4 linked regions of the Homo sapiens genome follow. The protein of the gene in region 1 purifies or fractionates together with the protein of each later gene. This does not show direct contact. Each region holds a gene or a part of one and is shown on either strand. Other genes may lie near its edges.

Region 1 (3,500 bases):
GCATTCCAGCCTGGGTGACAGAGTGACACCCTGTCACACACACACACATACACAAAATTAGCTGCACTTAGTGGCATGCATCTGTAATTCCAGCTACTCAGGAGGCTGAGGGAAGATCACTTGAGCCCCTGAGTCTGAGGCTGCAGTGAGCCACGATTGTGCCACTGCACTGCGGCATGGGTGACAGAGCAAGACCCTGTCCAAAACAAACAAAAAAGAATCTAGTATAGAAACACGAGAGGTTATTGGGACTGGAGAGGGAGAAATGGAGAGTGCCTACATAGTGGACATGGAGTGTTTGAAACTAGAGAGAGTTGGTGGTTGTACAACATTATGAATACCCCAAATACCACTGAATTATACACATTAAAGTGGTTAATTATATTTTATGTGAATTTCACTGCAGTGCTTTTTTTTTAAGCGTTATAACATTATTAAGGAAAGTTTCATAATTTCACATTTTATGAAACAATTTTATTACATGTATCATTTTATGTGTACATAATGTGCAGAATTAGGCTTGGTGTGGTGGCTCACGCCTGTAATCCCAGCCCAGCACTTTGGGAGGCCAAGGTGGGTGGATCACCTAAGGCAGGAGTTTGAGACCAGCCTGACCAACGTGGTAAAACCCCATCTCTACTAAAAATTCAAAAATTATCTGGGTGTGGTGGCGTGCACCTGTAATCTTAGCTACTTGGGAGGCTGAGGCACAAGAATCACTTGAACCAGGAGGCAGAGGTTGCAGTGAGCCGAGATTGTGCCACTGCACTCCAGCTTGGGTTAGAGAATGAGACTCTGTGTCAAAAAAAAAAAAAAAAGTGCAGAATTATAGCATAGTTACACTTTTGTGTTTTCTTTTTCTTTTTCTTTTTTGAGGCAGTATCTTGCTCTGTCACCCCAGCTGCAGTGCAGTGGTGCAGTCGTAGCTCACTGCAGCCTCAGCCTCTTGGCCTCAAGTGATCCTCCCGCTTCAGTCTCCAGACTAACTGGGACTACAGGCTCACACCATCATGCCCAGCTAATTTTAGAAGTTTTTGTAGAGATGGGGTCTCGCTATGTTGCCAGGGCTGGTCTGGAACTCCTGACTCAAGTGATCCTCCAGCTTCAGCCTCCTACAGTGCTGGGATTACTTACAGGCATTAGCCACTGTGCCTGGCCTACTTTTTTCCCTTGACATTTTACATAGTTTTGAATGTCTCTGTGGGAGGATGTCTGCGTGCTCTCCTCCCTTTTCTTGTATGTTTTCTTCTACTTCTTGTCACAGGCTCTTGTTCATTTGTTTTTTAAGAGACAGAGTTTTCCTCTGTCTTCCAGCCTTGAGTGCAGTGATGCAACCATAGCTCACTGCAGCCTCTAACTCCTGATCTCAAGCAGTCCTCCTGCCTTAGCCTCCTAAGTACCTGATGTCACAGGCTGTTTATGTATTTGTCCTCCTGTTCTTGTGTAAGGGAGCTAAAAGTCCAGTACATAGAAGTGCTAAGTGAATGAAGATATGTCAGGATTTGCTCCTTAGACCTCTCTGTTGACCTGTGAAACACTGTGCAGGTCCCTTAATCTCTTCTCAGTCTGGTCATCTCTTCTCTCTGCCCAGGAAGCAGGACCAGGGTGTCAGGGGTCTGGTAGTTTCAGGCCATTCTTATGTGTGGCTTTGTAGGGATTTTTGAGACAGGGTCTCGCTCTGTCACCCAGGCTGGAATACAGTGGCATGAACACAGCTCACTGTAGCCTCAACTTCCTGGGCTCCAGCAATCCTCCCACCTCAGCCTCCCAAGTAGCTGGGACCACAGGCGCACACTGCCACGCCCGGCTAATTTTTGTATTTTTGGTAGTGACAGGGTTTTACCATGTTGTCTAGTCTGGTCTCGAACTCCTGAGCTCAAGTGATCTGCCTGCCTTGGCCTCCCAAAGTGCCGGAACTACAGGTGCGAGCCACAGCGACCAGCCCTCAGGCCACTCTTATTATCATTGGCACTGCCTGCCCTCTCTCCATGCTCTTGAGCCACACTGAATCAGGAGTCATAGGTTTTCGTTCATCTGCATTGGCTGTGTCAGGTTCTCCAGCTCTAAGTGGGGACAGTAACACTTGACTTATGACAATTATGTCACTGAAATTCATGTAGTACAGTAGCCCATGTCTCTGATGGTTCTTTTTTGTTGTTCTTGTTTTGAGACAGGGTCTTGCTCTGTCACCAGGCTGGTGTGCAGTGGAGCAATCATAGCTTACTACAGCTGCAGCCTCAACCTGCTGGTCACAAGTGATCCTTCCGTGTCAGCCTCCCAAGCATCTGGGACTACAGGCAGGCACCACCATGCCTGGCTAATTTGTATTTTATTTTTTGCAGGGACAGGGTCTCCCTATGTTGCTCAGGCTGGTGTCGAGCTCCTTGGGCTCAAGCCGTCCTGCCTCAGCCTCCCAAAGTGCTGGGATTACAGGCATAAGCCACCATGCCCGGCCTGATCTCTCTTAATAAACTAACTAATAATAATTCCCAGCTTTCACAACAGCCCAGGCAGATTAGATATTATTATCCTCATTTTACTAACTAAAAATTTGAACCTCAAGGAGGTTGTGACTTGGCTAAGGCAATGTGGCTTCCACCCTGTTCCTCTTTACCTTTTACCAGGGTTTCTCAATAGTGGCACTATTTAAAAAAAAAAAAAAACAGTGGCGCTATTGGGCCAGGTCATTTGTTTTGTTGGGGGCAAGGGGGGCTGACCTGTGCAGTGCAGCATGTTGAGCAGCATCCCTGGACTCTACCCACTAGACGTCAGTGGCACTCTCCCCTAGTCAGAACAACCGGAAAACGTCTCCGGACACTGCCCCCGGCCTGTTGAGCACCACTGTCCTACTCCAAACCAGCTTTATAGCAGGAAGCTCCTTGGGTTAGTTTGTATAGTGCCAAGCACAGCAGCATACTTTTGGTGGTGAGCGCTTGTGCAGTCGATGGAGGTGTGTGGAACTGTGGCCCTGCTGGCTGGTGGCAGACACCAGTGCCCCTGTCTCTAGTGCAGAGTGGAGCTTGGGCTTTGTTTCTCAGGCCTGGCCTTTTCTCCTTCATTCTGTGCCCTCATTTTTCCAAATGCGCTTCTCTCTGGCCAGGTTTGTATGCAGTGAAAATCCGAGCTGAGGCCATGCAGGAAGCTTCAGAAGCTGTCCCCAGTGGGATGCTGTCTGTCCTCGGCCAGCCTCAGTCCAAGTTCAACTTCGCCTGTTTGGAAGCCCGGGAACACTGCAAGTCTTTAGGCATAGAGAACCCCGTATGTGAAGTGTCCAACTACCTCTTTCCAGATTGCAGGGTGATTTCAGGACACCAAGAGGTGGGTGTTGATGGGAACTGCCTTCATAGGCCAGTCCAGTACGGAGGGTTGGAACTGCTCCACACCCGTGAGGCCTAGCAGTCTGGCGGGTGCTGGGTCCAGCCCGGTCTTTAGGAAGTATTTTGGGGCCAGGGCAGTGAGGTAGACCGAGTGCTGCAAAGCAGGCAGGAGCAAGAATGCTG
Region 2 (4,104 bases), on another chromosome or scaffold:
TGATCAACATGCTCCTTCCTTGGAGCACAGATCTACTATGGCCAGCCTGGTCTCGAACTCCTGACCTCAGGTGATCCGCCCGTCTCAGCCTCCCAAAGTGCTATAATTACAGGCGTGAGCCACCGGGCCCGGCCCAGAGTTAATTTTTATTCATGAAACTCATATAACAGGTTTATTTATTTCAGTCGTTTTGTTGGTTAAAGAACCAAGATTTTTTATGACTACACTTTGTGTACACTTTTAGGTTCTCTCTTTTTTTTTTTTTTTTTTGAGACGAGTCTCATTCTGTCGCCCAGGCTGGAGTGCAGTGGCGCAATCTCGGCTCACTGCAACCTCCGCCTCCCGGGTTCACGCCATTCTCCTGCCTCAGCCTCCCGAGTAGCTAGCTGGGACTACAGGCGCCCACCACCACGCCCGGCTAATTTTTTTCTATCTTTTAATAGAGACGGGGTTTCACCGTGTTAGCCAGGATGCTCTCGATCTCCTGACCTCGTGATCCGCCCGCCTCGGCCTCCCAAAGTGCTGGGATTACAGGCGTGAGCCACCGCGCCCGGCCTTACACTTTTAGGTTCTTGAATAAGTACTGAGGGAGTTTTCCCTAAAAAAAAAAAAAAAAGTTTTGAGATAAAAGAATAAAAACTCTACTTCTTCTTTGCATAGGAGTCTTTAGTTTGTTTGCTGCTCTTGTTCCAAAACTTCTCATTACTCAACCTACTAAACCCACAGACACTTTTCAAGAAGTTATCTCTTTTCTACATCACCAATATATAGGGTGGCTTAGATCTGTATTTCCAAGTCTTACTGTCGTTCCAAGAATTAGTATCAACTATTAGAATCTCAAAAACTCAACTGCATACTGATTGCGCTGCCCAGTGTACCTCTGAATCCCACGGGGGAGGGGGTGTAGAACCGAGTTGTGCAGGAATGGGATATTCCACACTTCAGGGCAAACTTATTCGCAGGATCAGTGGCGGGCTTTGGAGGTGGGAAGCAGGAAGGAAGGGGAATGCAGATAAACTCTTCTTCTTCAGATCTCCGGGGTGAAATGAATGCACCTGACGCCCGCGTGGCATTAGAAGCTCCGCGAACTCAGTGAGGCCATGCTGGACAGAGGCTGGAACTCCGGGCCACCGGGACAACTCTGCCCGTAGCAAGCCTTGCGCGCTCCTGTGAGGGCGCGCGCGCGCGCATGTAGTCGTGTCTCGCGCAGGGTCCGGCCTGTCAGGCGGAAAATCTCGCGAGATCGGAGACGGGGGATGACGGTCTGGAGGAGGGGAGTGGTGTCGGGTAAAGGGGGGGAAGCTGGGCAGCGGCCGGGCTCTGTGGCTTCAGGGCTCGGGGAGAGAGAGGGAGGGTGGCAAAGAGACTGAGTCGGTGCCGCCGCCTGCCTGAGGAGAGAGGAGGGGTCCCGCTCGCCCTGCGCCCTTCGCGGGCCGAAAGCACTAGGCACTCGCGAACATCTGAGGCCTCCCGGCCCCGGGGGACCCCGCCCCGCCGTCCGCCGGCCGGCCCGCGGCCTCTCTTCCCTTTGTGAGCGCCTCCTTACCAGGGGTGGTGTTGGTGGCGGAGGGCTGCGCGTGGGCCCGCCCGCCGAGGGGCCGCGGCGGGGGACCGAGAGGGCCTCGGCTGTGTGAGGACTAGAGGCGGCCGAGGCCCGGGCCGGTTCCCCCGAGGCGGCGACGGAGACGGCTCCCGGCACTTCCCCGCGCCATCTTAACTGAGCCCAAGCGCTGAGGGCGCCTCCTCGACCCCGGTCGTCCCCTCGCCCCCCCCCCCACCCCCCGCCGCCGCCGCCCCTTGTTGCAGAGCTTGGGCTGGGCGGCTTGCTGGGGCTCGGGGGTGGGGGGCGGCGATCTGTCGCCGGGCCCCCTCCTCCTCCTCACTCCTCACCCTCCAGGGTAGCGGCTACCGGAGCGCTGCAGGGGGCTGCGCCTGCCTGCTCCGCCCCAGACCTGTCGGCGAAAGGGTAAGGGCACCTCTGCTTTGGGAAAGGGGGATATAGAGGGGGGCGGGGAAATTCGGCCCACTCGGGCCTGTGTGTGGAAGAAGGGATGTGGGAGTGGGGTGGGGGAGGGAGAAAAGGAGGGTCTGTGATTCTGTGGGTGGGGTGAAGAAGCTGGTGAGCTGGGCGCCCTCCGGTTTTAAGGGGCGAGAGCAATTCCATTCCTTTTTCCTGAGGGTCACCGGAAGGGGTGGTGGAAGGGGGATGTTTCGAGGAAGGTGTGGCCCTCACAGGGAGACTGGGTTGATGTGCACCCCGGTTTAAAGGCGCGAGGTCCCCTTCCCCTCTGGTGCCTTTGCTCCTCTTCTCCTTTGTAGTGTCTGTGTATTCTTGGGAAGGGAGACTGCTCTGGGTGGCTTGCTGGGTGGATTCCACCCCCTAGCACAGGAAATCTATACCCCTCTTCTGTAGGGGCGATGGAAGCGTTTCTCTCCCCGTACCCTTCCCCCTTCCCCATCCTCTAGTCTACTGCAATGCTGCAGAAGTCCAAGGCAGTTTCTTCATACACAGACCCATGTATACACAGAAGGGAGGGGGAGCAGGAGAGGGAAGTAATGGCGCTTCCCTTGAAAAGGTTACTCTTTTTCCTTTGGTTTTAAATCGACGACAGTATCGTTTTAATACTCTTCCCCTGAGATCTGTCCATGGGAAGTGTATCTGTTCTGGTGTTATTGTTGGGGGATATGGCCTCTCGAGAGGGACACCTCTCCTGTTAGAACAGTTTTGATGTCTCTCTTTTTGAGAGATGTCTGGATTGACATTTTTTGTGAGCAGGTTGGATTTTAGTTAGAATTCAAATAAAATAATTTTGTACCTCCTCATCCTCATTTCCCTTTTCTTTTTCTATGACTTTTGTAGTTCATGAAGAATTATTGGCCTGGCGCGGTGGCTCACGCCTGTAATCCCAGCACTTTGGGAGGCCAAGGCGGGCGGATCACGAAGTCAGGAGATCGAGACCATCCTGGCTAACACGGTGAAACCCCGTCTCTGCTAAAAATACAAAAAATTAGCTGGGCATGGTGGCACGCGCCTGTAGTCCCAGCTACTCGGGAGGCTGAGGGAGGAGAATCGCTTGAACCCGGGAGGCGGAGGTTGCAGTGAGGCGAGATGGTGCCACTGCACTCCAACCTGGGCGACAGAGCGAGACTCCGTTTCAAAAAAAAAAATTATTAACAATTATTACATACAGACAGCCTGTCTGATTCAGGGCATTTCTCCCTAAGCTGTGAATTTTTAGGGTTGATACTGTTGTGTATAATATTGAAATTGGATTTTTTTTAAAATGGTAAGGTTACAAACCTTTCTGCAGCTGTTTCTTTGTTCTTATTAATCTGCCTAATTATTCTATGATCTATTTTCTGTAGTCAGTCATTTTTCACTTCTTTTGCTACCTGTCATGTTTGTCTGAAAGCAGATCATCTTATCTGGTTTACAGTAGTACTTGTTGGTTTTGTTCTTAGTTGAGTAGAAATAAAAATTTAAACATTCTGGAAATGTGCTGCCAAGTGCTTTTTGTGACCAAAGAGTAGTTTTCAAGTCTCCATGTACTGATGATACATTTTTTTCAAGTGTTTAGTAAATACTGGTGATGTGATTTCAAAATATTCCACATATGACTATTAATAGAATTAATTTTTTCCCAAAGTGAAGAAGAAGACTAAAATGTGTACAGATAATGAGTTGTCTTTGGTGTATTTAGTGTTTTCAGCTCTACTTAGTGACTTATTTTTAAATACTTCAAATGCCATCTACATTTTATGTTGTCATTAAATGTTGTCCAATAGAGCTTTTTTGGTGTGTTTGTTGCATTTTGAAACCTGTTTTAAGATAGGGATTTAAAGGTGTTAGTAGTAGCGCTAGGCACTAACTTAGTTTCTGTCATTTTATATCATGATTTTGATGTAGGAGACATGGTATGTTAAATAAGTTTTATTTTTTTTTCTCAGAAGATGGAATTCTCTTTTCTTTATTCCCTTTTAATGGTCATCTCAATTCATTGAAATAACACTATTCATTTGAGTATTTATTTCATGGGACAAAGCTGCATGTTGTTGATATGTAGAGTTTTCTCCATTATGGCAAATTATGCCAGGAAGTCTGAT
Region 3 (3,500 bases), on another chromosome or scaffold:
TCTTGTTCTCTTGGCCAGGCTGGAGTGCTGTGGGAAAATCTGGGCTCACTGCAGCCTCAACCTCCGGGACTCAAGTGATCATCCTGCCTCAGCCACCCAGAGTAGCTGAGAATACAGGCGTGCGCCACCAGGCTCGGGTAATTTTTTGTATTTTTTTTTAGAGACAGGGTTTTGCCATGTTGCCTAGGCTGGTCTTGAACGCCTGGGCTCAAGTGATCTTCTCGTCTCAGCCTCTCAGAGTTCTGGGATTACAAGTGTAAGCAACCATGCCTGGCCTTGTGTATTTCTTTTTGGTTTTTTTTGTGATGGAGTCTTGCTCTGTCACCCAGGCTGGAGTGCAATGGTATGATCTCGGCTCACTGCAACCTCCACCTCCTGGGTTCAAGCGATTTTCCTACCTCAGCCTCCCGCATAGCTGGTATTACAGGGGCCCACCACTATGCCCATCTAATTTTTGTATTTTTTAGTAGAGACGGGGTTTCGCTGTGTTGGCCAGGCTGGTCTCGAACTCCTGACCTCAGGTGATCCGCCCGCCTTGGCCTCCCAAAGTGCTGGGGTTACAGGTGTGAGCCACTGTGCCTGGCCAAATAATTTTTTTTTTTTTTTAAGATAGAGTCTTGCTTTGTTGCCAGGCTGCGGTGCAGTGGTGTGATCTCTGCTCACTACAGTCTCCGCCTCCTGGGTTCAAGCCATTCTTCTGCCTCAGCCTCCTGAGTAGCTGGAATTACAGGCGGGCGCCACCACACCCAGCTAATTTTAGTATTTTTAGTGGAGATGGGGTTTCACCATGTTGGCCAGGACAGTCTTGATTTCCTGACCTTGTGGTCTGCCCGCCTTGGCCTCCCAAAGTGCTGGGATTACAGGCGTGAACCACTGCACCTGGCCTTTTTTTTTTTATTGAGACACAGTCTCACTCTGTCACCCAGACTGGAGTGCAGTGGCACAATCTCGGCTCACTGCAGCCTCCACCTCTGAGGCTCAAGTAAGTCTCATGCCTCAGGTGTGTGCCACCACACCCAATTAATTTTTTATATTTTTGCTATAGACAGGGTTTCACCATGTTAGCCAGGCTGGTCTCAAACTCCTGGCCTCAAGTTGATCTGCCCACCTCAGCCTTCCAAAGTGCTGGGATTACAGATGTGAGCCACCTTGCCCAGCCTAATTTCTAAATTTTTGTAGAGACGTGGTTTCACTGTGTTGCCTAGGCTGTGGTTGAACTCCTAGGCTCAAAGGATCCTCCTGCCTTGACTCCCCTAAGTGCTGGGATTACAGGCATAAGCCACCATACCAGGCCCTTTTTTTTTTTTCCCCTGGAGACAGAGTCTTGCTTTGTCACCCAGGCTAGAGTGCAGTGGTGTGATCTCGGCTCACTACAACTTCCGCCTCCCGGGTTCAAGCGATTCTCCTGCCTCAGCCTCCCAAGTAGCTGGGGTTACAGGTGCCTGCCACCACACCTGGGTAATTTTTGTATTTTTAGTCATGTTGGCCAGGCTGGTCTCGAACTTATGACCTCATGATCCGCACGCCTTGGCCTCCCAAAGTGCTGGGATTACAGGCATGAGCCACTGGGCCCAGCCCAACCTGTAATTCTTTAGGAAGATTTATATTCAAACAAGTCCTTTTTTTATTTAAAAGAAAAAAACACACACACACAGGGTCTTACTCTGTCACCCAGGCTGGAATGCACTGCCACAATCACGGCTCATTGCAACCTCTAGCTTCCAGGCTCAGGTGATCCTCCCACCTCAGCCTCCTGAATAGCTGGGACTACAGATGCATGCCACCACGACCAGCTAATAATTTGTATTTTTTGTAGAAATGGGGCTTTGCCATGTTGCCCAGGCCAGTCTTGAACTCCTGGGCTCAAGTGATCCTCCTGCCTCAGCCTCCCAAAGTGCTGGAATTACAGGCATGAACCACCACACCCAGCCCAAGTACATATTTTAACTAACAGCTTCACAGGAACTCTGTGGATTACTTAGAGCATGTGCTTTGGGGTTTCGAGTCCTGCCTCTGTGGCTAACTTTCTGTGCAGCCCTGGGCTAAGATATTTTACTTTTCTTTGAGACAGAGTCTCGCTCTGTTGCCAGCCTGGAGTGCAGTGGTGATCTTGGCTCACTGCAACCTCTGACTCCCAGGTTCAAGTGATTCTCCTGCCTCAGCCTCCCGAGTAGCTGGGATTACAGGCGTGAGCCACTACGCCCGGCTAATTTTTGTATTTTTAGTAGAGATGGGGTTTCACCGTGTAGGCCAGGATGGTCTCGATCTCCTGACCTCCTGATCCGCCCACCTCGGCCTCCCAAAGTACTGGGATTACAGGCATGAGCCACTGCGCCCAGCCACAATATTTCACTTTTCTAACGTCGTTTTTCTTTCTTTAGTTCTTTTTTTTTTTTTTTTAAGAGTCCTAGCCCAGGCTGGGCGCGGTGGCTCACACCTGTAATCCCAGCACTTTGGGAGGCCGAGACCATCCTGGCTAACCGGTGAAACCCCATCTCTACTGAAAAAATAAAAAAAAAATTAGCCAGGCATGGTGGTGGGTGCCTGTGTTCCTGGCTACTTGGGAGGCTGAGGCAGGAGAATGGCATGAACCCGGGAGGTGGAGCTTGCAGTGAGCCGAGATCGCGCCACTGTACTCCAGCCTGGGCGACAGAGTGAGACTCTGTCTCAAAAAAAAAAAAAAAAAGAGTCCTAGCTCAGTAGGTAGGACTATAGGCCCATCCCACCATGCCCAGCTAACTTTTTTTTTTGTAGCAATGCCCAGGCTGGTCTTGAACTCCTGGCCTCCCAAAGTGCTGGGGTTACAGGTGTGAGTTGCCATGCCTGGCCCTGAGCCTCAATTTCATTACTTGAAGTATGAAATAAATTAACACATTAAAGTGTTGCTAGGATTAAAATGAGGTCCTTATGTATTCAAAAATCGTACAGAGATTTTTGAGGCCCTTCTTATAGCAAAACTCCCATTTACATTTTTCTGGAGCCTGGAGAAATGTGTCCAGACTGAGTGAATAGGTGCTATTTGCTGTACTTACATTATCATTTATAAAATACTACTGGTGGTCATCCTGGAAAGATGATCCCAACTGCCTATATCCTGTTCATCATTAACTTGTGTGTCCCAAAAAATCTTTTGAAAAGTTGCTAAATAGTGAATATTTACTATTTTATGAGGGCCTGCCAGTTCCCTGCCAGTGGAATTGTTTCAAGTCAATGATTCATCTGTTCAGTCATTTGGAAAATACTCTTTTTTTTTTTTTTTTTTTTTTTTTTTGAGGTGGAGTCTTGCTCTATGGCCAGGCTGGAGTGCAGTGGTGTGATCTCGGCTCACTGCAAGCTCTGCCTCCCAGATTCAAGAGATTCTCCTGCCTCAGCCTCCCAAGTAGCTGGGACTACAGGCATGTGCCACAACGTCCAGCTCATTTTTTGTATTTTTAGTAGAGATGGGGTTTCACCAGGTTGGCCAGGATGGTCTCCAACTCCAGATCTTGTGATCTGCCCAC
Region 4 (3,500 bases), on another chromosome or scaffold:
TTTTCTTCTCCGGCCAGCCTCTCAGGCTTTCTGCATCGACGTGCCTTTGCGATTCACTGGGCCCCGTTCTTGTTTGTTTAGTGATTCCTGTAATAGGTTCTGCTAAAGACATTCATTTGTTTAGGGACAGGGCTGGGGGATGACAGCATGACTTGGTTTCTAGCATCCATCTGCTGTGGCCAGGAGTCCCTAATGGTCTTGTCTCCTGGCGTAGGTGCAAAGCTCCGGGGTCGGCGCCTGCCGCCTCTCGGCTTTTAGGGCCAGGCCATCTGGATTAGGCGGTTTCCCTCTTAAGCTCGGTAAACTCCACAGACTGTGACAGATCCCCTTTCCAGCTGTCACACCACCTGGCTGCATGCTGCCACCAGGGGAGGGTGGTCGAATTCGGATCTGGTCAGTAGATCAAGTGCCAGCATCCTGGCAGGGGTCTTCCGGCCAAGCCAGGCAGGGTCACTTTCTTTGCAGTTGGCACTTAAGAAAGGAAGAGAAGGCCAGGTGCAGCGGCTCACGCCTGTAATCCCAGCGCTTTGGGAGGCCAAGGCAGGTGGCTCACGAGGTCAGAAGATCAAGACCATCCTAGCCAACATGGTGAAACCCCATCTCTACGAAAAATACAAAAATTAGCTGGGCATGGTACTGCATGCCTGTAATCCCAGCTACTTGGGAGGCTGAGGCAGGAGAATCGCTTGAACCAGGGAGTCGGAGGTTGCAGTGAACTGAGATTGCGCCACTGCACTCTAGCCTGGTGACAGAGCGAGACTCCGTCTCAAAAAAAAAAAAAAGAGAGATGCATATCTGCTTCTTTGCATAAAGAACCTCTGGAAGGCCAGGCCTGGGGATCACACCTGGAATCCCAGCACTTCGGGAGGCTGAAGCAGGAGAATCACTTGAGCCCAGGAGTTCGAGACCAGCCTGGGCAACATGGCAAGACCCTGTCTCTACAAAAAATACAAAAATAAGCTGAGCATAGTGGTGCATGCCAGTAGTCCTAGCTACTTGGGAGGGTGAGGTGGGAGGATAGCTTGAGCCCAGGAGTTCGACATTGTAGTGCGAGCTATGATTGTGTCTCTATAATCCAGCCTCGGCAACATAGTGAGACCTCTGTCTCTACAAACAAACAAACAAAATTAGCCAGGCATGGTGGCACGTGCCTGTAGTCCCAGCTACTTGGGAGGCTAAGGCGGGAAAATCACTTGAGCCCAGGAGGTTAAGCCTGCAGTGATTGCACCACTAGACTCCAGCCTGGGCAACAAAGTGAGACTCTGCCTCTTTTTTGTTTCTGAGCCAGAGTCTTGCTCTGTTGCTCAGGCTGGAGTGCAATGGCGTGATCTCGGCTCACTGCAACCTCTGTCTCCTGAGTTCAAGCAATTCTCCTACTTTAGCCTCCTGAGTAGCTGGGATTACAGGCGCCTGCCACCATGCCCAGCTAATTTTTGCATTTTTAGTAGAGACGGGGTTTCACCATGTTGGCCAGGCTGGTCTCAAACTCCTGCCCACCGCGGCCTCCCAAAGTGCTGGGATTACAGGCGTGAGCCACTGCGCCTGGCCTAGACCCTGTCTCTTAAAACAAAAACAAAACAAACCTCTGGAAAGTTAATAAGAAATCAGTTAAAAGTAGTTTTCAGTTCAGAGGCAGATGGGGACTGGGGCAGCTGGTGATAGGTGTGGTAATGAAAGACTTTTTTTTTTTTTTTTTTTTTTTTCGAGACAGAGTCTTGCTCTGTCGCCCAGGCTGGAGTGCAGTGGTGCGATCTCAGCTCACTGCAACCTCCACCTCCCAGGTTCAAGCGATTCTCCTGCCTCAGCCTCCCGAGTAGCTGGGGTTATAGGCGTGCGCCACCACACCCAGATAATTTTTGTATTTTTAGTAGAGACAGGGTTTCACCATGTTGGCCAGGCTGGTCTTGAACTCCTGACCTCAAGTGGAGTCCACCTCAGCCTCCCAAAGTGCTGGGATTACAGGTGTGAGCCACTGCGCCCGGCATAAAAATCATTTAATAGCTTTTTCTTCTTTTTCACTGAATGTCCTTTTATCTTGCAGCTATGTGAATGCACTGCCTAGTCATAATAAACAAGAAAGAGAAAGCAGAGTGCCCCTTTCCTGGATAGCTGGATTGGCTATGGCCCTGGGCACACCTGGAGTTGTTGAGGGTGTCCGTTTCCATGGCGAGGCTATAGAACAGTGGGCGCCCTTCCAACAGGCTAGAGCCTCCATGTCTCAGTGAGGCCATCTTCTTGCTCCCTTGAAGCTTGGGCTGTCCTCTGATGCCATGTTGTCAGCCCAGACAGGCAGTGTGATCAGGGCTCCTGGCAAGGGTCTTTGAGACACAGCCACTGCCCCTGCTTGGTGGTCGTGACTTGGGACGCAGCCTGCCTGTGACTGGAGCTGGGGGTGACGGGTAAGATGAGTGGAGATGTTGGGCCAGTGGGGCCTGATTCCCAGACTGGACCTGCAAGGCAAGAGACAGGGTTTCTGGAGCTTGTTTTTGAGACAGAGTCTCGCTCTGTCACCCAGGCTGGAGTGTAGTGGTGCAATCTTGGCTCACTGCAGCCTCTACCTCCTGGGTTCAAGCAATTCTCCCACCTCAGCCTCCCGAGTAGCTGGGATTACAGGCGCCTGCCACCACGCCTGGCTGGTCTCAAACTTCTGACCTCACGTGATCCGCCTGCCTTGGCCTCCCAAAGTGCTGAGATTATGGGCGTGAGCTACAGCGCCCAGCCCCTGGAGCTTCTTAGTGAGCCATAGCAGTGGCTCCCAGGAGAGATCTCTGAACACCTGGCCTGGGGGCATGGAGCCTAGTGGGGTTAGGGTCAGAGGGGAGCAGCCCCTGTAGGGCGTGCAGGTTCCAGGGATGCACACAGGCCCATGTTCCTGCCCGACATGCCCTCTCAGGCTGATGTGAATGGTGATGGCTGCCATTGACTGGAGGGAGTTGGGATGGCCTTGTCCTCATGACCACACGCAGTTGTCCTGATGGACCTGCTGGGGAGGCCTAAGTGCCCCCATTCCCAGAGGGTAGGGAGCCGAGGCTCAGAGAAGCTGTCTCCTACTGAGACAAGCTGTCTCCTGCTGAGACAAGCTGTCTCCTACTGAGTCTCCTACTGAGAGGCAGGGCCGGGTCGGCCAACACCAGCGCCTGTCTCCTCCGGGTGCGCCACCCCCACCCATGGTATGCTGGATCTTATTTTTCAGGTGACGATGCCTGGGGAGCCTGTGGACGTGGCATGTGGCGTGGACCACATGGTGACCCTGGCCAAGTCATTCATCTAAACCTCCCTCACCTGCTTGGGCGGCCCCGTCCCGGGAACCACTGGCACTCCTTGGCAGAGGCCAGCGCGTGGCCAGCCCCCCGGGGTTCTTGGATGGTGGTGGCGGAGGACCCTGCGTGCAGTGTGACGCTCTGTCCTGAATCCCTTAGCGGGTACCTACCAGGAGGATCAGGGCAAGGTCCCTCTCCAGCTGCAGGTGAGGCCTGCGGAACTCAGCTTGGATGGCAGCC

What was found. Proteins that work in one complex are often made in the same cells at the same time.
Region 2: the proteins of MCAT (region 1) and TAOK1 purify together in Homo sapiens (affinity purification with mass spectrometry; one large-scale study listed by BioGRID and IntAct). This does not show direct contact.
Region 3: the proteins of MCAT (region 1) and SHMT1 fractionate together in Homo sapiens (co-fractionation; one large-scale study listed by BioGRID). This does not show direct contact.
Region 4: the proteins of MCAT (region 1) and RCC1L purify together in Homo sapiens (affinity purification with mass spectrometry; one large-scale study listed by BioGRID and IntAct). This does not show direct contact.

What each region holds. Positions count from the first base shown.
Region 1 is NC_000022.11:43,136,899-43,140,398, reverse strand, and holds part of MCAT (malonyl-CoA-acyl carrier protein transacylase, mitochondrial isoform a precursor), read left to right. Parts: intron 1-3,100; coding exon 3,101-3,318; intron 3,319-3,500. UniProt on the Homo sapiens protein: Catalyzes the transfer of a malonyl moiety from malonyl-CoA to the free thiol group of the phosphopantetheine arm of the mitochondrial ACP protein (NDUFAB1). This suggests the existence of the biosynthesis of fatty acids in mitochondria.
Region 2 is NC_000017.11:29,389,059-29,393,162, forward strand, and holds the start of TAOK1 (serine/threonine-protein kinase TAO1), read left to right. Parts: upstream 1-1,304; 5' UTR 1,305-1,966; intron 1,967-4,104. UniProt on the Homo sapiens protein: Serine/threonine-protein kinase involved in various processes such as p38/MAPK14 stress-activated MAPK cascade, DNA damage response and regulation of cytoskeleton stability. Phosphorylates MAP2K3, MAP2K6 and MARK2.
Region 3 is NC_000017.11:18,357,051-18,360,550, reverse strand, and holds part of SHMT1 (serine hydroxymethyltransferase, cytosolic), read left to right. Parts: exon of another isoform or gene 1-137; intron 138-3,500. UniProt on the Homo sapiens protein: Interconversion of serine and glycine.
Region 4 is NC_000007.14:75,042,803-75,046,302, reverse strand, and holds part of RCC1L (RCC1-like G exchanging factor-like protein), read left to right. Parts: intron 1-3,193; coding exon 3,194-3,271; 3' UTR 3,272-3,500. UniProt on the Homo sapiens protein: Guanine nucleotide exchange factor (GEF) for mitochondrial dynamin-related GTPase OPA1. Activates OPA1, by exchanging bound GDP for free GTP, and drives OPA1 and MFN1-dependent mitochondrial fusion. Plays an essential role in mitochondrial ribosome biogenesis.